Linked DNA regions of Homo sapiens. The protein of the gene in region 4 purifies or fractionates together with the protein of the main gene of each other region. This does not show direct contact. Each region holds a gene or a part of one and is shown on either strand. Other genes may lie near its edges. The genes, in order: KBTBD6, WRAP73, VAPB and OSBPL9.

Evidence for each region.
Region 1: the proteins of OSBPL9 (region 4) and KBTBD6 purify together in Homo sapiens (co-immunoprecipitation; 2 studies listed by BioGRID and IntAct, with this or other methods). This does not show direct contact.
Region 2: the proteins of OSBPL9 (region 4) and WRAP73 purify together in Homo sapiens (affinity purification with mass spectrometry; 4 studies listed by BioGRID and IntAct, with this or other methods). This does not show direct contact.
Region 3: the proteins of OSBPL9 (region 4) and VAPB purify together in Homo sapiens (affinity purification with mass spectrometry; 9 studies listed by BioGRID and IntAct, with this or other methods). This does not show direct contact.

What each region holds. Positions count from the first base shown.
Region 1 is NC_000013.11:41,129,774-41,137,452, reverse strand, and holds the start of KBTBD6 (kelch repeat and BTB domain-containing protein 6), read left to right. Parts: upstream 1-4,650; 5' UTR 4,651-4,941; coding exon 4,942-6,966; 3' UTR 6,967-7,679. UniProt on the Homo sapiens protein: As part of the CUL3(KBTBD6/7) E3 ubiquitin ligase complex functions as a substrate adapter for the RAC1 guanine exchange factor (GEF) TIAM1, mediating its 'Lys-48' ubiquitination and proteasomal degradation.
Region 2 is NC_000001.11:3,640,088-3,647,122, forward strand, and holds part of WRAP73 (WD repeat-containing protein WRAP73), read right to left. Parts: intron 6,696-7,035; coding exon 6,579-6,695; intron 1-6,578.
Region 3 is NC_000020.11:58,448,206-58,451,613, forward strand, and holds the end of VAPB (vesicle-associated membrane protein-associated protein B/C), read left to right. Parts: 3' UTR 1-2,896; downstream 2,897-3,408. UniProt on the Homo sapiens protein: Endoplasmic reticulum (ER)-anchored protein that mediates the formation of contact sites between the ER and endosomes via interaction with FFAT motif-containing proteins such as STARD3 or WDR44.
Region 4 is NC_000001.11:51,620,068-51,627,102, reverse strand, and holds part of OSBPL9 (oxysterol-binding protein-related protein 9), read right to left. Parts: intron 4,632-7,035; exon of another isoform or gene 4,559-4,631; intron 1-4,558. UniProt on the Homo sapiens protein: Interacts with OSBPL11 to function as lipid transfer proteins.

The DNA.
Region 1 (7,679 bases), on a different chromosome or scaffold from region 4:
GTAGGGAGGTCATCAGTGAGTCTTATGGTAGGCATGAGAAAAAGTAGACAGAAAGTCATCTACGTCATACAGGAAGGATGGTTCACTGTGTAAGCCATTTCCCAGAGCACAAAAGAGTTGGGAGATTTAGGAAAACAAAACTTTGTGGAATTTCTTAATTCCATGATCTTGATCTCCACGGGTAAAATTGTCAGTTCAGATTGAAATTCTGTCTGGGAAGTCAGTTGGAAGCAGAGTCACCCTTTGGTCTACCAGATCATGATACATTGTTGAATAATAATTTGTGAAGACAAATAGCTGTGTAGTAGTATTTAAGACTAGGCATGATGTACTGCCCAACTGCAAGGTATAAGACTACAAACAGGAAAATAATTAGTGTATTAGGCCATTCTTTCATTGCTATAAAGAAATACCCGAGACTGGGTAATTTATAAAGAAAAGAGGTTTAATTGGCTCACGGTTCTGCAGGCTTTACAGGAAGCATGGTACTGGTACCTGCTCAGTTTCTAGGGAAGCCTCAGGAAGCTTACAATCATGGTGGAAGGTGAAGAGGAAGCAGGCATGTCACATGGTGAAAGCGGAAGCAAGAGAGGGAAGAAGAGAGAGAGAGAGAGAGAGAGAGAATGGGTGGAGGAGGTACCACATATTTTTAAACGATCAGATCTTGCGGGAACTCAAAGCGGGAGCTCACTTATCACCAAGTGGACAGACAGCACAAGTCATTCATGAGGGATCCGCCCCCGTGATCCAAACACCTCCCACCAGGCCCCACCTCCAACACTGGGGATCACACTTCAACATGAGATTTGAGCGAGGACAAATATCCAAACTATGTCAATTAGTAATGTTTGTAATACAGCTCAAAACCGGGTCTTCTATTTCTAAATCTTGCCCAGGGGAACATGCCTCAGGCTATTTGAATTTACCTTAGAAAGCCAACTAGCCTTTTCCTTGAGTTTAGTAACTAAGCATTCACTTGTCCTGTTGTGTTTATTCAAGTGCAAAAAGAGATTTTGGCTATGGCACAGATATCTCCTTGTCTAGCTAGAAGGAAGTTGAAAGTTGTAGGATTGGCCATAACAATTTGGACCTGTGCGTTTAAACTTATTTTCTGTACTTCTAGGGCCAAAGTGGTATAATTTTCTTCTACAAAGGTTAAGGAGAGGCTTGAACTACCTTTTCTTTTTTTTTTGAACTATCCTTTTTAACTGTATTAATGCCATAGTGGGTGTCAAGGGCCCTCATGGTGCATATGAAAAGAGAATCATTGATATCCCTGGGAGGTTTTCCCCAATTCCCTGTAGTTGCCTCAATTTGGAGGTAATTCCAGAAGGACACACCATTGACAGGTGGGATAGCAGCTTTAAATATTTTGAAGTCCCAGACAATCAGTCCAAATGCCCTTGGGGAAGGCATGAAAAGTGGTATCCTATGGGGAAACAGGTGGGGTCTGAGGTATAGTAATTATTAACAATTACTGGGATTAACAACTGGGTAGATCCCTCAGAAGAGCAGAGTCTTTGTGTGGAACTGAACGCAGTTTGTAAGGCTGGTTGGGAAGTGGTGGAAGAGAAAATGGTTATTATTAGGGATAAAAGTGCTCCTACATTTTTTCCTACACTTGATCCTGAAAAAGTGGAGTCATTGAGTTTGGAGATTTCAAGAGACTCATTAATCATGTTAAGAATTAAGTTTCATTTAGTACATGCTGAGAAATTGGGGATAATAGAAGAGTCAAGGGCCATTAGGCATGAGACTCTGGGCAGGTTGAGTTCCTTAAAGAGTTTGGCTAGTTTGAATATAACGGTACCACTGGCCTGCTTGTTTCATTTTCCAGAGGACTGGTAAGGAGACTGCAGTTTTTGTAACATTGGAAGTACTTGTTGAAGATCCTGAATAACCTTACTACTGAAGTGAGTTCCTCCACTGTTATTAAAAAAAACAGAGATCCCTAGGAGGGGAAAATTCTTTCTGGTATCAGGTTAACTTCAGTGGTGATAGTAGCTTGTTTACAGAGAAAAGCTTTTAACCATGCTGAAAACATGCCAACTATGGTTAAAACATATTTGTACCCATAAGACTTTGAGAGTTGATATATTTTCCAATGAAAACAAGGACTAGAGAGAGTTGACTCTCATGCTTGTCCCACTTTACATGTTGACTAGGATTGTGTTTCTGGCAGATGGGGCAAGTTGAAGTTAACTGCTCAGTATTAGGGCATCCCCAACAATATTTGCGGAGAAAGATTTTCTTTGCCATAATGTGTAATCTCATGGAGGCTGCAGAATAAATTTTGGGTGAGGGACCAAGAGAAATCAATGATGTCTAGGTGTCTCCAAAGCCCATCTGAGTAGAAAAAACATCCAGCTTGTTGCTTTTTTGCTTTTTCAGCCTCAGGTGCTAGCAGCTGTTATATCTTAAGTTTCTTAAGAGTTTCTGTCTTTAGAGTAGGTTGAGCAAGGAGAAGTATACACGTGATTCAGGAGGTGTTTTCTTGGGAAGCAGCAACCTTAGCATATTTTCAGCCAGTTAAGTTTCCTTTAGCTTTGTTAGTCCAGCCACTAGTGTGAGCTTTGATTTTTGAGAATGGCTAATTTCTGGATAGCTGTAAGGACTTAAACAGGGGGGCTGGGCGCGGTGGCTCACGCTTGTAATCCCAGCACTTTGGGAGGCCGAGGCGGGTGGATTACCTGAGGTCAGGATTTTGAGACCAGCCTGGCCAACGTGGCGAAACCCCATCTCAACTAAAAGTAAAAAAAAAAAAAAAAAAATTAGCCGGTCATGGTGGTGGGTGTCTGTAATCCTAGCTACTCAGGAGGCTGAGGCAGGAGAATCGCTTGAACCCGGGAGGCGGAGGTTGCAGTGAGCCAAGACCGCGCCACTGCAACTCCAGCCTGGGTGACAAGAGCGAGACTCCATCTCAAAAAAAAAAAAAAAAGACTTAAATAAGTTAGTGAGTTGGGTTCTGAGTGGTACTCCTCAGTTGTCATAAACCTCTTTCTTTCCATAGCATACCAAAATAACGTGCAATTCCAAAAGTAAACTGGCTGTCTCTATAAATGTTAGTTCCCTTATCTTGTGCTAACATGCAAGTTTGGGTGAGTGCTTAAGAATTCAATGATTTGGGCCATGTTAACTTAAGTGGAGATTTCAACTTAATAGGCTGTTGAAAATCTGCAATAGTGTATCCTGCTTAAAATTCCCCATTTGTACTCCTGAGGTAAGAACCATCTACAAAGGTGATATCAAGGTCTCTGAGAGGAGTTCTGGTGATGTCAGAGTGAGGAAATGTGAATGACTGTGTGACGGTGATTCAGTCACAAGGTTGTCCTTCAGAGGGAATGGGAAGAAGAGTGGCTTGATTGTTTTGACTACGGTGGACAGTGATGAGAGAGGAAGACAGTGGCAGGGTTTCACAGGAGGTGAGTCCGAAGCGGAAACGTGTTAGGTGTTCTCAGTGACTTCTAATGTCTGAACTGCACGGGGTAAGTAAAGGTTGAGTGAATGACTAGAAATAAAGTCAGCTCTGATGGAGAGGCAACTTCATACAAGCAAGGGGAGAAATGCTTGAGCCACTGGGTCTAAAAGGATGCTAAATTACCAACCAGGCCTCTGGCTTCCATTGTGTTTTGGGGTGAGGACCCCCTAAAGCATGTCTCTTCTTTTGTGTAAAAAAGGGAAAGGGGTACTGAATATTGGAGAGACCAAGTGGGAGAAGTGGCTACAGAGGACTTCAGGTTTTGAAATGCAGATATGGAAGGAAAGTCTCAAAGTCAGGTGACTGGAGGTGGTCTCCTTTTAGTCATGGCAAATAAGGACAGGCAATTGTGAAAAAGCCAGGGATCTAATTCCAGCGATAGCCAACCAATCCTACAAACCCTGAGTTATCTTTTGGTACCAGGGAGAGGCATAGTGAGTAAAAAAAAAAAAAAAAAAAAAATCACTTCTAATGGATACATACACTAATACAAGATGTTAATAATAAGGGAACTGTGAAGTGGGGAGAGATATATGGAAGTTCCCTGTCCCTGCTGCTCAATTTTTCCGTAAACCTAAAAATAAAATCTAATTTACACACACACACACACACGCCCCTAAAAAGGGATCTCTGCTGGAACTTGCAAGGTTTTCTGTTTTGGGGGGTTTTTTGTTTTCCTACAGGCTCATAATTTCAAATTAGTGGTGCTTCCTTTTTTTTTTTTTAATAAAGGCTGGAAGAAAACTTATCGAACCTTTATAATTCTAAGAACTGAGTAATTATTCTACAAACCAACAAATATTTATTAACAGCGTCCTATAACCAACTCATGTAATCTTCACACAATCCTATGAAATACTACTGTTCACGTCTTACAAAAGAAGAAACAGTTCAAAGAGACAAGTCAAACAATACATACTAGAACGAGGCGACTACTCTGGATTCCAAAACCACAGTTCCAAACCACAAAATCGAATCTAGGAAAATTGGCGCTCTCGAGTGTCGTCAGCTAAAACAAGGAACACCAGAGAAGGATCGCGATATTACACAAACTACTACTCCCGACATGCAAAGCGGATTCTTTCCCTCGGTCTCGGCCCGGGAGTCCGAGAGTCCCAGCAGCCCTCGGGGCGCGAAAGGCAACCTGGGAGCGGTAGTTCTCCTGGGCGCCTAGCATTGTCGCCCACGCTGCAGTAGCGGCTTCTGCGGCTCCAAGCCAGCGGGTCCTGTGAAGGCGAGCAGACGCGGAGAAAGGACGCGGGAGTGAGAGAGGGTGAGTCAGCCACTGTCTAAACGATAACGGGAGGCGGTTCTGCGGGGTAGGGTTGAATTCAGTAAATGGGCTCGTGCTGCTGTCTCTTCGGAGACGCTGCTATCTTAGCGTCAGCGAGGGAAGGTTGAGGAGGAGCCAGAGCCGGGTCCTGCAGCGTTTCTCGCCATCAGCGCCCGTCGCCATCTCCACCATGCAGTCCCGGGAAGACGCCCCGCGCTCTCGCCGCCTAGCCAGTCCCCGTGGTGGGAAGCGGCCCAAGAAGATTCACAAACCCACAGTTTCGGCCTTTTTCACGGGTCCAGAGGAATTAAAGGACACGGCCCATTCTGCAGCCCTGCTGGCACAGCTCAAGTCCTTCTACGATGCGCGGCTGCTGTGTGATGTGACCATCGAGGTGGTGACGCCTGGCAGCGGGCCTGGCACGGGTCGCCTGTTCCCCTGCAACCGCAATGTGCTGGCCGCGGCATGTCCCTACTTCAAGAGCATGTTCACAGGTGGCATGTACGAGAGCCAGCAGGCCAGCGTGACCATGCACGATGTGGACGCCGAGTCCTTCGAGGTGTTGGTCGACTACTGCTACACGGGTCGTGTGTCTCTCAGTGAGGCCAACGTGGAGCGCCTGTACGCGGCCTCCGACATGCTACAGCTGGAATATGTGCGGGAAGCCTGTGCCTCCTTCTTAGCCCGACGTCTTGACCTGACCAACTGCACCGCCATCCTCAAGTTTGCAGATGCCTTTGGCCATCGCAAGCTGCGATCCCAGGCCCAGTCCTATATAGCTCAGAACTTCAAGCAACTCAGCCACATGGGTTCAATTCGGGAGGAGACTCTAGCAGATCTGACCCTGGCCCAGCTGCTGGCTGTCCTGCGCTTGGATAGTCTGGACGTGGAGAGTGAGCAGACAGTGTGCCATGTGGCAGTGCAGTGGCTGGAGGCTGCTCCCAAAGAGCGGGGTCCCAGTGCTGCAGAAGTCTTCAAGTGCGTGCGCTGGATGCACTTCACTGAAGAAGATCAGGACTACTTAGAAGGGCTGCTGACCAAGCCCATCGTGAAGAAGTACTGCCTGGACGTTATTGAAGGGGCCCTGCAGATGCGCTATGGTGACCTGTTGTACAAGTCTCTGGTGCCAGTGCCAAACAGCAGCAGCAGCAGTAGCAGCAGCAACTCTCTTGTATCTGCAGCAGAAAATCCACCCCAGAGACTGGGTATGTGTGCCAAGGAGATGGTGATCTTCTTTGGACACCCCAGAGATCCCTTTCTCTGCTGTGATCCATACTCGGGGGACCTTTACAAAGTGCCGTCACCTTTGACCTGTCTGGCTCACACTAGGACTGTCACCACTTTAGCTGTCTGTATCTCTCCTGACCATGACATCTATCTAGCTGCTCAGCCCAGGACAGACCTCTGGGTGTATAAACCAGCTCAGAATAGTTGGCAGCAACTTGCAGATCGCTTGCTGTGTCGTGAGGGCATGGATGTGGCATATCTCAATGGCTATATCTACATTTTGGGGGGGCGAGACCCTATTACTGGAGTTAAGTTGAAGGAAGTGGAATGCTACAATGTTAAGAGAAACCAGTGGGCATTGGTGGCTCCACTGCCCCATTCTTTTTTATCCTTTGACCTAATGGTAATTCGAGACTATCTCTATGCTCTCAACAGTAAGCGCATGTTCTGTTATGATCCTAGCCACAATATGTGGCTGAAGTGCGTTTCTCTGAAGCGCAATGACTTTCAGGAAGCCTGCGTCTTCAATGAGGAGATCTATTGTATCTGTGATATCCCAGTCATGAAGGTCTACAACCCAGTTAGGGCAGAATGGAGGCAAATGAATAATATTCCCTTGGTCTCAGAGACCAACAACTACAGAATTATCAAGCATGGCCAAAAATTGTTGCTCATCACCTCTCGCACCCCACAGTGGAAAAAGAACCGGGTGACTGTGTATGAATATGATATTAGGGGAGACCAATGGATTAATATAGGTACCACATTAGGCCTCTTGCAGTTTGATTCTAACTTTTTTTGCCTCTCTGCTCGTGTTTATCCTTCCTGCCTTGAACCTGGTCAGAGTTTCCTCACTGAAGAAGAAGAAATACCAAGTGAGTCTAGCACTGAATGGGACTTAGGTGGATTCAGTGAGCCAGACTCTGAGTCAGGAAGTTCAAGTTCTCTTTCTGATGATGATTTTTGGGTGCGTGTAGCGCCTCAGTGAAATGCACAGGATCAACAGGGTTTGTTGTAACTAGATTGAAACACTAAGTTGTTTTTACTGTTTTGGAAAATATCTTAAATATCCTTTTTGTTCCTAAAGGAGAGGAAAAGTTGATTAACTTCTGGTTTGGTTTAGAAAAAGTAATGTTTGAAATACGAAGGTAATTTAATGTTACAAATTTTAACACTCAAATCAACCTTTTAATAATTTTCTGTGCTAAGGGTCCAGTATTTATTTGATTATTTAGTATGTTTATGTTTCATGACACTAATTTAGTCTTTTGATACATTTTACATTCTGTTTACTGCCACAAGCACTGTGGCAATAACTTTTGAATTTTAATTTTTATAATAGAAAAATGATTAGGAATTGCTAGATAGTGTTTTGAAAGCATATCTTTTTCTTCAGAACAATGTAGACTTCCAAAATGGTTAACCTAAGGGGTCTTTACAAAATGTGTTATAAGTTAAACATAATTTGGGAAGTTTTACTTTTGTTTTCTTCTATGAAGAAAAAAATGCAGGCTGGGCGCGGTGGCTCACGCCTGTAATCCTAGCACTTTGGGAGGCCGAGGCAGGTGGATCACCTGAGGTCAGTTCAAGACCAGCCTGGCCAACATGGTGAAACCCCGTCTCTACTAAAAATACAAAAATTAGCTGGGCGTGGTGGCATGCGCCTGTAATCCCAGCTACCCAGGAGGCTGAGGCAGGAGA
Region 2 (7,035 bases), about 48 Mb from region 4:
CAGGAGAGAAGTCCTGAACACACAGGTAGTGGATCAACGAGCTCCAGGGGTCACGTGGCAGCACGGAAGGGCTCCTGTGCTGATGCTGAACCCGAAACACACTGGCCGTTCTGGGGACCATGCCTCGGAACTCCAGCTGCACAGAGCACTTGCTCCTCTAACAGCTCCACAAGCTGAGGCCAAGGAGGGCGCTGGGGCCTGAGCGAGGAAGCGTGCTACTTCCCACCAGCGTGTCTGAGGCTGAAACCTTGCCCAAGCCTCTCAGACTCAGCAGGGTGGGTGCAGCGCCTGAGGCTCTGAGCATCAGCAGGGCGGGGTGGAGCGCCCGAGCATCTCAGCATCAGCAGGGCGGGGTGGAGCGCCCGAGGCTCTGAGCATCAGCAGGGCAGGGTGGAACACCCGAGGCTCTGAGCATCAGCAGGGCGGGGTGCAGCGCCCGAGGCTCTGAGCATCAGCAGGGCGGGGTGCAGCGCCCGAGGCTCTGAGCATCAGCAGGGCAGGGTGGAACGCCCCAGGCTCTGAGCGTCAGCAGGGCGGGGTGGAGCGCCCGAGGCTCTGAGCATCAGCAGGGCAGGGTGGAGCGCCCGAGCATCTCAGCATCAGCAGGGCAGGGTGCAGCAACGGAGCATCTCAGCATCAGCAGGGCGGGGTGGAGCACCCAAGCATCTCAGCATCAGCAGGGCGGGGTGCAGCGCCCGAGCCTCTCAGCATCAGGAGAGTCCATGTGCCACCCAGGGCAGAGACCTGCCCTCCAGAGCCTACTGCAGAGTCACAGGAGAAAAGCACATCTCCCACCTGTGGCCCTGCATCCCTGTGGGGTGCGCCTGGCCGAGGCTCCCCACTCAGGCACATCTTAGGAAACACAGGGAGCACTTTAAGCCTGATTTTTACCTTCATCTCACAAAAACAAAGAAACAAAAACCTTTAAAAGATAACTTTGCAACTTTTAAAAACCCAATAAGAAAAAAAGGTAGTTAAATATACACCTTCATCAGCGCTGTTACCTTCCACTGACCACTGGAGAAGCCAGCGGAGGAGACCCGTGGGATGGGCTCCACAGCACTCAGCAGCAGGAAGAAAGGACCAGAGGGATCCACATGACCCAGAGCACTCAGGAGGGAAGGAAGGGGCCGCTGATCCACGCTACGACCCAGTGTGCTGAAGACGGAAGGAACGGGCCACCGATCCACACCACAACTCAGCATGCTCAGGGTGAGAGGAATGGGCCACGGATCCAAGCCATGACCCAGTACACTCAAGACGGGAGGAACAGGCCACTGATCCATGCCACGACCCAGCACTCTCTCCACACCATGACCCAGCACTCTCAAGATGGAGGAACGGGCCACTGATCCACCCCACAACCCAGCACACTCAAAACCAGCAAGATGCCAGGGAAAAGGAAGCAGACGCACAGCTCCACGCACCATGGCTCTGTGCAGATGGGATTCCGAGTAGGCAGTGCTGCTCGCCCCGCAGCAGGCACCGGCTGCCGGACACAGGTGGGAGACGGACTGAGCACAAGGGGCACGAGGAGCCCCATGCCACGGGCGAACAGTCTTGGTCCTGATTGTGGCGGCAATGACGTGCAAAGTGACTCACTCAACTGTGCTCTTAAAGTGGGTGAATTCTCTTGCTTATAAATTGTTTTAATTGCCTTTATTCAGATATAAGAAAAAGTCTGCAGTCTGGATATATTTTTAAAGCTAACTATAGACTATTTACAACATACACACTCAAGTTTAAGGATGCAGAAATGTAGAAGGTAAAAGGATAGAAAAAGACATATCAAGAAAATCCTAACCAAGAGAAAGGTGGCACTGCCGCATTCGTACGGGATAAATCAGACTCTGAAACAAAAAGAACCGTGAGACATAAAGAGGAATACTTTACAACAAAAGGCCTGTGCCACCGCGGAATCATGGGAACCGCTTCACTAGGAAATCTGTTTACAAACAGTTAAAAGTTTGTATGCAGCTAACAACAAAGTCTCAAAAATACATTTAAAAATCTGGCAGAGCCGGGCGCACTGTTGTGCACCTGTAATGCCAGCTATACAGGAGGCTGGGAAGGAAGGATTGCGTGAGTTTAGGAGCTCGAGACCAGCCTGGGAAACAAAGGGAGACCCCAACTCTACAAAAAAATTGTTTTTAAAAAATCTGACAGACTACAAGAGCAATGAAGAGGAATCAGTCCCATCAGATATTCAAACACACCATAGAACCTCAATAATGTAGACAGTGTGGTGCTGGCACATAGGTGGACCAACAGTGGACTGGAATGGAAACCAGAAGTGATCCTGCAGGTATAATGGAACTGAGCTCCTGCTATAGCTGGTGAAGATAGCCTTCTAAATAAATGCTGCTGGGAGCTGGGCACGGTGGCTCACACCTGTAATCCCAGCACTTTGGGAGGCCGAGGCAGGCAGATCAACTGAGGTCGAGAGTTTGAGACCAGCCTGACCAACATGAGAAACCCCATCTCTACTAAAAATACAAAATTAGCCAGGCGTGGTGGCGCATGCCTGTAATCCCAGCTACTCGGGAGGCTGAGGCAGGAAAATCGCTTGAACCTGGGAGGCGTAGGTTGCGGTGAGCTTGGATCACACCATTGCACTACAGCCTGGGGGACAAGAGCGAAACTCCATCTCAAAAAAAAAAAAAAAAAAATGCTGCTGGGAAAAGGTAGAAATGGATTCAGACCCCACAGTGTGCCCCACTACGTGAACCTGCTTCATTTAAATGGAGCATGTGTGAGCGTCTGTGTGTAATGAAACAAGATAGGAAAGCACTCAACCTCACCGAGAATTAGGGAAACGCAAACTAAATCCAAACTGCAGTATCATTTAGTCGCCTGGATGGAATCATTGTAATCCTGCCACAAAAGCCTTGGCAAATGAAACCCCTCCGTCTGCTACGGCCAAGCAAGGCTCTCCTAGAGAGGCTCTCCGGGTATGTGCCCAGGAGACGGGGACAACACGTTCACAGCCACACCGTCCGTGGTGACGCACACGTCCAGCAGGCGAGGACTGAATGGCGTTCCTCACGAGGAAGGGAAGGCCCAGCGATGCCTGTCAACACGGAGGAGTCTAAAAGCAGTGACGGGGAACAGCAACAGCAGAGACTGCAAAGTACAAGCCCCTATAAATCAACTTTACACTGCACAGCAAGCAATGTGGTGTTTAGACACATCTGTACAGTGAGACTCAAGAACAGTGAGGATGTGATTCACGCAAGACGTGGGGCAAAGGTGCCCTCAGGTGGGGAGGGCATTGCTACGAGGAAGAGAAGGGCTCTGAAAGCGCGGCAGTGTTCCGCTGCAGGCCTAGGGGTGAGCCGCTTTTGATGACTCACTGAACCTCGTCTAATGGGCGCAAGCTTGCCTTTTCACGTTAAAATGCAAGAGGCAGGGACGTCTCCCATGCTCCACAGCACCCTCACGTGGGGTGGCGCCTTCGCAAGTGGACTCAGCGGCCCCACTAACCCCCGAAATGGGGTCGCGCCTTCGGAAGGGGACCCAGCGGCCCCGCTGAGCCCCGGACATGGGGTCGCGCCTTCGGAAGGGGACCCAGCGGCCCCGCTGAGCCCCGGACATGGGGTCGCGCCTTCGGAAGGGGACCCAGCGGCCCCGCTGAGCCCCGGACATGGGGTCGCGCCTTCGGAAGGGGACCCAGCGGCCCCGCTGAGCCCCGGACATGGGGTCGCGCCTTCGGAAGGGGACCCAGCGGCCCCGCTGAGCCCCGGACATGGGGTCGCGCCTTCGGAAGGGGACCCAGCGGCCCCGCTGAGCCCCGGACATGGGGTCGCGCCTTCGGAAGGGGACCCAGCGGCCCCGCTGAGCCCCGGACATGGGGTCGCGCCTTCGGAAGGGGACCCAGCGGCCCCGCTGAGCCCCGGACATGGGGTCGCGCCTTCGGAAGGGGACCCAGCGGCCCCGCTGAGCCCCGGACATGGGGTCGCGCCTTCGGAAGGGGACCCAGCGGCCCCGCTGAGCCCCGGACATGGGGTCGCGCCTTCGGAAGGGGACCCAGCGGCCCCGCTGAGCCCCGGACATGGGGTCGCGCCTTCGGAAGGGGACCCAGCGGCCCCGCTGAGCCCCGGACATGGGGTCGCGCCTTCGGAAGGGGACCCAGCGGCCCCGCTGAGCCCCGGACATGGGGTCGCGCCTTCGGAAGGGGACCCAGCGGCCCCGCTGAGCCCCGGACATGGGGTCGCGCCTTCGGAAGGGGACCCAGCGGCCCCGCTGAGCCCCGGACATGGGGTCGCGCCTTCGGAAGGGGATCCAGTGGCCCCGCTGAGCCCCGGACATGGGGTCGCGCCTTCAGAAGGGGACCTAGTGGCCCCGCTAATCCTCGAACGGGTCTGGTCCTTGCTCTTGTGAATGAGACTGATGGACGGTGCCCGCAGCTCACTTCCTGGCCAGCACGTCTGGAATTCCGGTTTTGTTTCCTCACTTGCAACCATTAAAGTTCGCATGCAAAGCTGGAGACACATTTTGACATCTTGGTCAAGATGCCCCATGCCTTGAGGTTACCGGTCCTCATCCACCACCTGGTCTTAACGTTTCCTCTAAGGCCACCAGCAAAGTGGTCATGACCTTAGTCTTAGGTTGAACAATGTCATCTAAATGTACTCTATGAAAAATCAGTTTGTTCTGTAGCAAAGGTGTTTTCAATATTGGTGTGTGTGACATGGGATGCTCAACAAAACCAGGCTTTTATCCATCTTTTAAGGTTTCTAAACTCTATAGATGGTAGTTTTCCTTCTGGGCCATTTAATAAGATAATACAACAAGGCTGACCCCATGACATGAGCCCTTCTCAAGGGCAGATTTGGGCCCAAAGCATTACAGGCCTGAAGACTGTTAGACACGGCTGCGTGAAAAGCTCAAATTATCCTCTCTGAAACACTCAGGCCGAAAGTGCCTTCCAATGTCAATACATAGTGCGGAGACATTGGTGGGCCTTTGTTTCCTGTCTTATTCTCTGACAGCCCATAATAGCAGACATTAGATTTGGAGTATTTTTTAAAATCGAAACTGAAAAATATGTAAAGCCATCCAGCCATCTGAAGCAGTTGATTCAGCAACCCTCATGGCTGGATAAAACTTTATCCCAGCCGATGCCAGCTTGAAAAAAGCCGAATGAAACCCTACAGAGCATCTGCAGCCACACGCTGGGAGAAATCCTCCCAGGTGCCATCATCTACGTGGTGTGCGCGGCGCAGCGGGACGGGAGGGCTGCAGTGTGGTGTGAGCGGCGCAGCGGGATGGGCGGGTTGCCCCGTGGTGTGCGTGGCGCAGCGGGACGGGCGGGTTGCCCCGTGGTGTGCGCGGCGCAGCGGGACGGGCGGGTTGCCCCGTGGTGTGCGCCGTGCAGCGGGACGGGCGGGTTGCCCCGTGGTGTGCGCGGCGCAGCGGGATGGGCGGGTTGCCCCGTGGTGTGCGCGGCGCAGCGGGATGGGCGGGTTACCGAGGTGCAGCCAGCAGCCCAGACAGCTATGAGCACTCAGTGGACTTGGGCCCAAACACTGGGATCCAACTCCATCAGAAAAGCACATTATTAAAGGAATTCGTCCATTTTTCTGTATCTTAAAAAGACACTGCGGACACCAAAGACCTGGTATCTAAACACTTGACATATGCCTAATTTTAACTTAAAATGCAGTCTCCTATCCCAGATCCCTCTGATTTATTCTCGGATGTCAACATTCCCCTCCGCGCTGAGCTCAGCACGGAGGCTGTTGTGCGGTACCTACAGCAGGTGAATGGGCGGCTGCCGACCGCCCCGAGCCACGCCCCCAGGCCAGGCTCCTGAAGGAAAGGTGCGAGCCGGCTCATATCACAGCGCATTTTCTATCGTTGAATTAAAGGGAGTGCCGAAATCCTAAAAAATCTAAATTAAGATTTTTAAAATGTTTTTTCTTCAAAACTGGACAAAAGATCAGACAATAATACTTAGTGGCTTATAATGCTCTGACCTAAAATATACACACCACTATATACGCTCCCCGGCTCCCTCCAACCCCGCCAATCTACCAGCCACTCGGGAGCCACCTCAGTCATCAGACCCAGGGCAGCAGACAGTGCCTGTGTTCACGACACCCTTATCTGACTCAGTAGCAGCCCAAAGCACGGGCGGTGGGGCTCGCAATCTGGATACGCCAAAGAGAAGCCACAAAGTGCTTCCTTTAAATGACGAGCTGAAAGTTCTTGACGCAACAAGGAAAGAAAAAATCCTATGCTGAGGTTGTTGCTCAGATCTTCAGTAAGACCAAATCTTCTATCCATGCAATTATAAACAGTATATTGTTATCCTTGTTCTATACTATGATTGTTGCTAATCTCTTACTGTATCTAATTTATAAATTAAATGTATCACAGGTATGCTGTATAGGAAAAAACACAGGAAATACAGGGTTTGGTACAATCTGAATCCCCTGGTGGTCTTAGAATGCATCCCCTGAGGATAAGGGGAGACTAGCATACTCCAAACACACCCCCTCTCGCACTCCCCAGCTGTTTCGAGAGCAGAGGACAGGATCACATGGCCAGTAAGGTGTCTTGGGGCTGACACTTACATGGAATTCCGTGGTGTTGAGAATGTGGCGCCCGTCCGGGCTCCAGCACGAGGCCACCAGCCCGGCTGAGCCCTCGTCTATTTTGCAGTGCCATTCGGGCTGCTCTAAAGACCAGACCTGGATTGAGAGAAGAAAGAAACACACAAGTGCAAACTCATCAGCACCGAGAGACAGCGAGGACAGCTCGCTTAAACGCAGCGGAGACCCGACCGCACAGGGTGTCTTCAAACTCATCAGCAGTCTATAGCGAGGCCTCGCCGAGAGACAACTCCCTTAAAACCAGCAGAGACCCGATCACACAGGGTGTCTTTTAGAACCTTTCATGATGAAGGGCTGGTGCTGGATTCCAGTGTAAAAGTAAGCCACGCTTCTTGGTGATTTCATTTCGTTGTTGTTTTAAAACTGTTTATTCACATTGTCATTCCTAAGACCTCATTTAGTTAAGCTTTGGACACAG
Region 3 (3,408 bases), on a different chromosome or scaffold from region 4:
GTTCATGACATACAAATCCCATAAGGCCAACGACCACTCTTCTGGAACACCAAGAGCAGCTCTGAGATCATGCTGGCCCTACGCGAATTGAGTTTCTGTGGCCTAATTGGATTTGGAGAACGCCTTCCCTGGCCCCTTTTCCTCAGACAGATCTGCTCTGATAGGAACCTTTTCAAGAAAGTTACTGTTGTTTCAATGCCACTCCTTACCTGTATAGAACATTTCCAATACATTCGCTCATTGAACTTAATCCTTGCAACTGTGACTGGGGGGTAGATGGCTCTGTTTGCATACGAAGAAATAAAGGCTCCAGGAGGTTAAATCGGGCAACTTTTTAGAACTAAATCAGTCTCTGTAAGGCCTACATTGCTAAGATACCATTTCAGCTCTGAAAATCTGCTTCAGGGAAGTGAGTGGATGAGGCCTTCCTGCCTCAGCTACTCTGCCCGTCTGTACATCTTTTGTGTCTGCCTCCGTACCTTATTCAGTTATTTTCACACTAAAGTAAGTAGAATTAAGACTGTAGTTCAGATGCTTTTTCTTTTTCTGTTGGAAACTGAACACACTACAGACAGTGAAAAAAGGTACATATTCCATTTTCTCATTGCCTGAAGATCTCTGCTGATGCTCCTGGAGAATGACTTTGGGGGCTTTAGAAAGAATATTGCCAGTCCGTCTCGGCAAGGAGATGATGGGAGCGCTTTATATGGAGGCTTTACATGACTTGTAAATTAAATGTGAATGAGGGCAGTTGATTAAAATTGGTATTACAGAAGGGCCCTGCTGAGGTTTGAAAACAGCTGAGCTGCTGATGTCTCAGGCCTTTCCCTGAATTAGCACTGCGGTTCTCCAGGATATCAGCAAAGAGGGCAAGTAATAGAAGCCCCTGATAAGGAGCGTCAGCCGACAGGCAAGCTTGGGAGGCTGTGGGAATGGGTCTGCCCCCAGCTTCACAGACCTCTTCCTCCAGCCTCTGAATCCCATTAGCCACAGCCTAGAACATTAGCTGAGCTGCACAAGCTCACCCACCCCTGTGCCAGGGGGCCCTGACCTCCCTCCATGCCATGTTTTTGGCTGTATCTACGGCACTTAACAATAGGGGCTTTTTATTTTCATTACAGAGATATTTTGAAAAATTTAAAAGACATGAACTCACATAAACAGTTATGGATGATAGTTAAAAGAGAAACGGGTGGAGGTGGATGAGAGGTTGTCTTCATGAATATAATTACTTGAGATTTTTTTTTCTTAATGGAATTAGTTTATTAGAAAATGTCTGTGTTAAATCCGTAGAAAAGGAAGAAAAGTGTAGCAACAAAAATGTAGCCATTATCTAACTTGCCATAAATATTTGCAGTTATGATACCTTGGAATGTTGCCACGATATGGATTGCTTTGATTAAAAGATGTCAGTTGAATAAAACAGTACTGTGGGAGAATCGCTTTCTGCTGCTAGATAAATGCTGATGTTTATTTTTAAACCAGGAAACATTGATCCTGTAACAATGCCCGATTACAATTGCTTTATTACACCCCAGGGCTGATGGAGATGTAATCACTTGGCTAATGGATGTGGGTGCAGGACAGATGCTCGCTTGCTGGCCTGCTTTCCTGCTTGCATTCTGATGAGCTGCAGGAGTGCGCCTGGCCTTCTGCAGGTGGAGCTGCTGTCAGAGCTTCGTTTCACTGATACCCAAAGCCATGTCTGACTGAAATAAAACAGGTTCCCTTTTTTTTTCCCTTTGGAAAATGCCAACTAAGGGAGACTAATCAGATATCTTAACACAATTTCATCCAGGCTTAGTGCTAACAAGATTGCGGGGCTTTTTAGGGTTTAAGAAGATGAGAAATGAGTGTGCACGTTTCACACGTTGACTTGCCGGTTTTTCCATGTCATACAAAAAAGTCCTGGCTGTTTCTCCGAACTGGCTGCCTGCATTCCCGTCTTTCTTTTGTTTTTAAGAAATAGACTGAATTCAGCTGTTAATCCTCTAGTACAGTATCCATGTTAAAATGTTTTTCCATTGCATCTTTTATGTGAATTCAAAGGTCAGAATTTATTGTCTGTGATATTGAGACCATGTGTACAAGAACTACTTTTTGCTTTTCATCATTCACTCCTTAGCAAACGTTTCGTAAGTACCCTCTGTCTGTTTGCTACTATATGAGGTGCTGCGAAATTAGTGGGCGTGGCTTTTTATATTTTTCATTCGTGTGTAGCCTAAGTAAGGTGACTCAAGATGATACACCGAGAGAAAAATGCAAAATATATTTGGTTCTCATTTCTGTTGCTGTCGTTTCCTTTTTAAAGACGATTTATCAACTGCTGCCATTTGGAACTTCCTATAAGAAACTAAAAATGATCTATTTCAGTGTTCCTTTCGCCTTTCCTCTGCTTTCTGAATAAATGGTTTCAGTAACCCATGCTGTTCTCTCCCTATTCTACGTCTTTCTCCCTATGTTGAAAAAAGATTCCCACAGTTTCTGATGTGTGTGTTTATAGTCTTCAATGTATGTTAACATGTTAGGAACTGAGTATCTTAAGAGATGTCTTAGAATGCTTTAGTTTTCATAATTTGTCCTTTATGTATTTTTCATTGTATTTGCTGTTTTGACATGGAAGTAATTTAAAAAGTTGGTGCAGGAAAGGACTCTTTACTGTTGCACATTTTGGTTTTCTGATATGTAATAAATTCATGGCTTGGCAGCTGACATGATGTTTCCCAGAGAGAAGGAGATGTATTTCTGCAGGGTCCAGACCAAAAGAGCCATTTACAGCATGTTCTCCCATGTTCCATTATCAGCCTGATGAAACCTGCCCTGCCAAGGCATAAACTTTTGTACTAGCTGTCTCCATATTATGTTCAATAAATTCTGTGCTCTGAATATATTTAAAGGATGCTTCAGTGTAAAATTATTTTGAATGGATGGCTTAATTCCATTGAGATAGGCTTTGGAGTGTGGACTAGAGCCCGTTGCTCGACTCTCACTGCTTTGTAGGAACATGAAATTGGTTTAAATTAAAATCAGAGACCTTTTGCACCAGAAAACAGATCTAAGAGATCACTTAGGTCAACGTCTTCATTTTACTGATGAGGAAACTTTTGCCCAGAGAGCTTAAGCACAGGGACCAGCTTGCATGTCAGTGTTTTCCTATTGGGGGAAGTGTGTGTCATCAGTGATTTACAAAGGTACCCACCTGTGTAAATTGCTTCCAGCTTTGAAAGGTGGGTGGATTCTGTCTTTTAAGTAGTGGTTGACAGTTCTCCATCTTACAGTGTTACCTTGTTAAAACGTTAATGAAAACAATTTTAACTTCTTTTGGAAAAGTAAGGTGGGCAAATGGTAAGACTTCACACAAGACCAAGGGGTACACAGTATACAAAATCAGGTTTCCTCCATTCCCAA
Region 4 (7,035 bases):
GGCCTGGGAGTTTGAGGCTGCTATAAGCTATGATTGTGCCACTGCACTCCAGGATGGACAACAGAGAAAGACCTTGTCTCAAAATAAACAAACAAAAAAACCATGACCAACAACAAAAATGGATCAGACCTACCCATTATAGCTAAAATAAACAACTCTTAGAAGTAAACATAGATATGAAACTTTGTGACTTTAGATTAAGCAATGATTTCTCAGATACGACACCAAAAGCATAAGCAGCAGCAGAAGAACAAATAAACTGGACATCATCAAAATTAAAGATGGCCAGGTGTCATGGCTCACACTTGTAATCCCAGCACTTTGGAAGGCCAAAGCGGGAGTATCACTTGAGTCCAGGAGTTCAAGACTAGCCTGGGCAACACAGTGGGACCCTAACTCTACCAAAAAAAAAAAGCAAAACAAAAATTAGCTCGTGTGGTGGCACATGCCTGCAATCCCAACTACTCAGAAGACTGAGGCAGGAGGATTGCTTAAGCCTGGGAGGTCGAGGCTGCAGTGAGCTGTGATAGCACACTGTACTCCAGCCTGGGTGACAGAGTGAGATCTGGTTGTAAGGGGGAAAAAAAAGAATAAAAAGCAACAGGCTATCTAAAAATGTCTGTATAAAATGATTACAACTGTTTGTTATACTGCATAATAATAATAATAATATTCTTAAATAAGAAAAATCTGTAGTGAGGAAGAAGTTAAATAGAGAGAGGAGAGAAAGCAGATAGAGGAGAAAATCTATAGACTGAGATCCCCGAAAAGTTTGTGAGCAAATGGAATCCAGAACACAGGATTACCTCTTCTATGATAGGGAAAGGTAAAAGCAAGTATAAAGAGGAAAATAGATATATCAAAATAGGTGGGAGAACAAGGAGTTGAGAGTGTTCCCACCAAATGGACTATTGTCTCTGGTAAGCATGGCATCTCCTATGAGTGATGGAGGAAAGAAGAGGATTGAGAGACAAAAGATAGCTGCCAGAACGACAGATCACATTTTTATCCAGTGTATTTTCACCCAGCTGTGCCATAACAATACTAAGATAAAATACAAGAAATAAGTAGACAATCTTATCATGGGGCCTCAATGGAACAAAACTCCAAGAAATAGACAATCAACTTTTACAATAATTTTAACATTGTCATGTGAATAGAAAAAAATTAATTATGAATACCTGGAAATACTTTCCTTGAATATAATTCCATTTATATCATCCCATGTAACATGTAAACTTAACTTCTGCAAGTAAATTCCATTTTTAAAATAATCCTGGGCTGAATGCAGTGGCTCACAATTATAATCACAGCACTTTGGGAGGCCGAGGAGGGTGGATTGCTTAAGCTCAGGAGTTTGAGACCAGCCTGGCCAACATGGTGAAACCCCATCTCTACCAAAAATACAAAAAGTTAGCCAGTGTGGTGGCGCATGCCTATGGTCCCAGCTACTCAGGAGGCTGAGGTGAGGTGGGAGGATTTTGAGTCTTGGTGCTGGACGTTGCGGTGAGCCAAAATCATGCCACTGCACTCCAGCCTGGATGACAGAGCAGTACCCCATTAAAAAAAAAAAAAGAAGAAGAAGATAATCCTTTACAATTAAATAAATGAGAAGGAAACAATTGATTGGGGTGGCCATTTCTTTGTCTGTATTTCTCTATAAACAGTAAAAGAAATTCAATCCTTAATCTAAATCACTTGTACACTGTTCTAGTTTTGATCGGGATTACCTATTTGAAAATCTAATCCTTCCAACTGGCATGGTCTAGATTAGTTTAAAATAAATTAAATTACATTTTAAAAAAAGAAAATCTAATCATACAATTGCCACTTTTGGAGTGGCATATTTAAGAACAACTCTACATCTTTCTACAAATTATCACCATCAAGAAAACTGCTTGCAACAGAAGCAAGAATTGACTGCTTGTCTGCTACAACACAGGAAGCAAAGATGGCACACAGTTCCACAGGCTCTGGATGACTAAACAAAAAACCTCTGTTGTTAATATAAACCCAATCAGGTTTTACATAAACTGTGGAAACATACATATTTGCTATTAGTATATTCTGTAAAACTTACAAGGCTGTGTAAACAAGAATTCCAAACAGCCTTCTGCCTCACTCACCTATAATTCGAATTAGAAGGGCCATTCATATTCTATTCACAAGGAGAATAATATGCCTCATTGTCAGGCTTGAAGATTATTATGATGTTCAGTACTGCCATCATGGAGTTTACAAGCTTGCTGTACAGATAAAGAATGTACTAGAGATACATTTAGTTAATTGTAGCAGATGTAAGATGATTAATGCCCAAAAGAAGTATATGAGCTAGGCTCAGGAGTTTTAGAAAAGGGAAAAATCAAGACTGTCTAAAGTATTCAAGGAAAGTAAAAGATAAAAAATTTCCAAATAATTCTTCCCACTGATACTACTCACTATCTTAGAGAGTTTCTTTATGTCTTTTCAGGGTGTTTGGATTTATTTTTATTTTTATTTATTTATTTATTTATTTTTTGAGACAGAGTCTCACTCTGTCACCCAGGCTAGAGTGCAGTGGCGTGATCTCAGCTCACGGGTTTTGCCTTCCGGGTTCAAGCGATTCTCCTGCCTCAGCCTCCCAAGTAGCTGGGATTACAGAGGTGTACCACCATGCCCGGCTAATTTTTGTATTTTTAGTACAGACGGGGTTTTACCATGTTGGTCAGGCTTGTCTTGAACTCCTGACCTCAAGTGACCCACCTGCCTCGACTCCCAAAGTGCTGGGGGATTACAGGCATGAGCCACTGCACCCAGCCCATTTAGATTTAGATACAATTTTTCTTTTGTTCCTTTTATAATTCTAAAGCTACTCTATTAGATTTGGACTACTAAAATGTACCATATAGCCAGGCAAGGTGGCTCACACCTGTAATCTCAGCACTTTGGGAGGCTGAGGCAGGTGGATGATCTGAGGTCAGGAGTTCAAGATCAGCCTGGTCAACATGGTGAAACCTCGTCTCTACTAAAAATACAAAAATTAGCCAGGCCTGGTGGTGGGTGCCTTAATCCCAGCTACTCGGGTGGCTGAGACAGGAGAATTGCTTCTACCCAGGAGGTGGAGGTGGTAGTGAGTGGAGATCGTGCCACTGCACTCCAACCTGGGTGACAGAGCGAGACTCCGACAAAAAAAAAAAAGTACCATATATAAGCTCAATAAAAATCATATTTGATATATTCAAGAATGGTTTACTTAGAAAAGAATAAATTTGCTTTTAAATGTTTGATGGGAGTGGTGCTGATACCTTTCCAGGAGAATCTGAGACTACTTTTACATGTTTGCAAGAGAAATATATACATTTAAGCTATTCAAAAATCTAAAATCTAATAATTAGATGGTAGATTTTTTTATCATCTACTAAACATTGCTAAAGACTGCCAAATAACACTTAAATGTGTTTTGACTAGCAGTGGTTTTAAAATGCAAAGTCATTACAAGTCTCTTCCAGACAGTGTGTAACAGCAAAGAACATATGATTTCTCTAACGACTCCTTTTACAAGGAATATCTTGAGTAGCCCAGGTAACTTACTAATTCAGTTTCTAACCCTCTCTCCAAAAGCAATACAAATCAAGAAAGAGGGTTAAACATTTGTGGGTAATGACTAAACAAATCATATTTAGCTATTCCTTAGCTATTCCTTTTTCCAGTTCCCACTGTCATTGTCCTAAATCTTTACTATACTCCTTGCGTCCTGACTGTATCCTCATTTTTAACATTGACCTTGCTTCCCATCCCTACACCATTTAAGCATATTCCTATTTTAGAAACTGTTCCCCTCCATTCCACATTCCATGTCCTCTTTGCCCTTTCTACAATGAAACATCTTGAATAACCTCCATTCGCTTCATATATTTCCTGCCTCCTCTTTACTCTTCAAGCCACTCCAACCTGCATTCCATACCTACCACTCCATGGAAACTGCTCTGCCTAAGAACATCAATGATGTTCATCAATCCAATGGATATGCTTTAGATCTCATCTATTTAATCCTTTCAGCAGTATTCAAGCCAATTTACTACTTCCACCTTGCCATCCATGACTGCCACATTCTTCTAGTTTTTCTCTTACATCTCTGGCATCCCTTTTCACTCTCCTGTGCAAGCTTTTTTCCTCTGCCAATCCCTTAAATTGTGATTGTGGTGGTTTAAAATTTGTCCACAAATTCTTTTCAAAAGATAAAGCCTAATTTCCCTCCTCATGTCTGAAATTCCCATCCCCAGGAGCATGAGTGGAATTTAATGGCTTGTCTCTAATGAACAGAATAAGGCAGAAGTGGTGGTCTCTGACTAGGTCATAAAAGGGATTGAGGCTTCCTCTTTGCTCTCACTTGGATCACAGCCAGCTGCTCTGTCATGATGACACTTAAGCAGCTCAATGGAGAGGCTACCTGGTGAGGAATGAGGCCACCTTCCAACAGCCAGCAAGGAACTGCCACTTTCTGACAACAGCCATGTGAGTCATCGTGGAAGCTGATCTTCCTGCTCCAGTCAAGCCTTTCAGATGACTGCAGCACTGGCTAATATATTGACTACAACTTCATAAGAGACCCTGAGCCAGAACTCAAAGTTCTGACCCACGAAAACTATGAGGTAACAAACTGTTGTTTTAAATTGCTACATTTTGGAGTAATCTGTCATAACGCAATAGATAACTAAATCCAGTGGTATTTTCCAGAGTCCTATCCAAAGATCTCTATTCTACTCACTCTCTCAACTCTCCATATATGAAAAACTAATATTTATCTGCAGCCCAGATTTATTTTATGTTTTACTGACTGATAAGAGGATATGCAGCCCAGATTTTTGTCCCAAGCTCCAGACTGTAACACATCTTTATGTCAATTTCAACATGCCCCAAAGCAACCACTTCTCTCCCCCAACCTGTTCTTCCTATCTTCCTTTTTATCATTCAACCAGCTCAAGCTGAAAACCTGGATGTCTTCAGACTCTTCCCCTTTCACTCACATCCAATCACTAAATCCCATCAAAAGCAACCTCCTGATTACTTCTCCGCAACCATATTCTTTAAAATAAAAAAAAAAACACACATTTCACCTGAACCTACTGATCAATTTTAACATCATAGAGAGACAAGCTAACATCATATGCCTCTTGATTTGATAGGTTCCACCTATATTCTTGCCCAAAAGAAAAAAAATAAATTTGATTAAGCTTTCAGCTCAAATTATCAATTTATATAGGAAATACAGAGGACAAAGGAACCTGTTTAAACATACCAAAATGATGCTTCCAACAAAATCCAAAATGCAGAAAATTCTACAGAGTAAATGACCTGGTGTCTTAGACAAATAAATGGCCAAGAAAAAGAGAGGGAGAACTAGAGATTAAAAGAGACTCTATAATTTTATATGCAGATCTTGTTTGGAATTCTGACTCAAACCAACTGGTAAGGAAGAAATGTTTGCGACATTCTAGGAAATTGAACAGACTGGATATTTGATATTAATAAATACTACTATTTAGCTGTAATAAAAGTGTTTTGATAACATTCTTTTGAAAATAGAGGGACCTTAACTTTCTTTTTTTTTTTTTTTTGAGACGGAGTCTTGCTTTGTCGCCCAGGCTGGAGTGCAGTGGGACCATCTCGGCTCACTGCAAACTCCACTTCCTGGTTCAAGTGATTCTCCTTGAAGGGAGAGGCTGAATTCTTGGCCTCCCAAGTAGCTGGGATTACTGGCGCTGGCCACAGCAGGGCAAATTTTTGTATTTTTAGCAGAGATAGTGTTGGCCAGGCTAGTCTTGAATTCCTGACCTCAGGTGATCTCCCCGCCTCGGCCTCCCAAGGTGCTGGGATTACAGGCGTGAGCCACCATGCCTGGCCACATACTGAAATATTCACAAGAAATAATAATCTGGGATCTGCTCTAAAAATAATTCAATAGAGGAGGAAGGAGTTAATGGGAGTACTAATAAAACAAGACTGGCCATATGTTGATACTTGTATAAGCTGGATGAAATGAATTCATTTTACCGTCCTCTTTAGTTTTATGAATGTTAAAAATTTTCTATAATAGGCTGGGCACAGGGGCTCACGCCTGTAATCCTAACATTCTGGGAGGCCGAGGCAAGTGAATGCTTGAGCCCTGAAGTTCGAGGCCAGCCTCAGCAACATGGTGAAACCCCGTCTCTACCAAAAATACAAAATTAACCAGTCTTATCAAAATAAATGAATAAATAAAATAGATTTATTTTTTTAAATTTCTATAATAAAAGATTTTTCAATAATAATAAAAAGTGCTTACAACACTGAAATAGCTCTCCACTGCCCTGGGGATAAAGTTCAAATTCCTTAACATGGTTTGCCAAGAAAGCCTTTCATTATCTGTCCTCCTGCTTAGCTCCCCAGTTCATCTCTCACTACTACCTACCTCACAGCCCAACCTCCAGAACTGACAAGCTGCTTACTCTTCTCTCCTCCAAAAAACTTTTATTCCCTTTGTCTCAAGCACTTTTCCCTCTCTGCTCATACGGCTAATCTCTCCTCATCATTCAAGTCAAAACAAACCTGCTTCTCCAAGGAAACCTTTCCTAACCCTTCAAGACTGAGTCAAGTAGCCCACCTATGTATCCCCCTGTGCTTCCTCTATCACAGCTCTTATCTGGTATGTCCCCCAACATATTATAGGTACCATGAGAGGATGAACAATTTCCATCTTATTTGCCACTTTAACCCCACTTCCTAACAAAGTGCCAGGCACACAATAGGTACTCAGTAACCTTTCATAAATTAACAAAAGGCACAAACTCCTCTTTCTAAACTTCCAATTCCTCATAGATCTATAACTCCCCCAATTTCCTTCCTTCCATATCTTCTTTTGTGATCATAAGCCACATAAACAATTGGTTGCTCACATAGTGTTCCTAAATTTATATCCTTAGTTCTCCCTGGCCATTTCATCTAATAAAAATTCAACTAAGGTGAGGCTTGTGTAAATCTATTCAGTTCACAACTATCGCAATGATCCTAACCCAA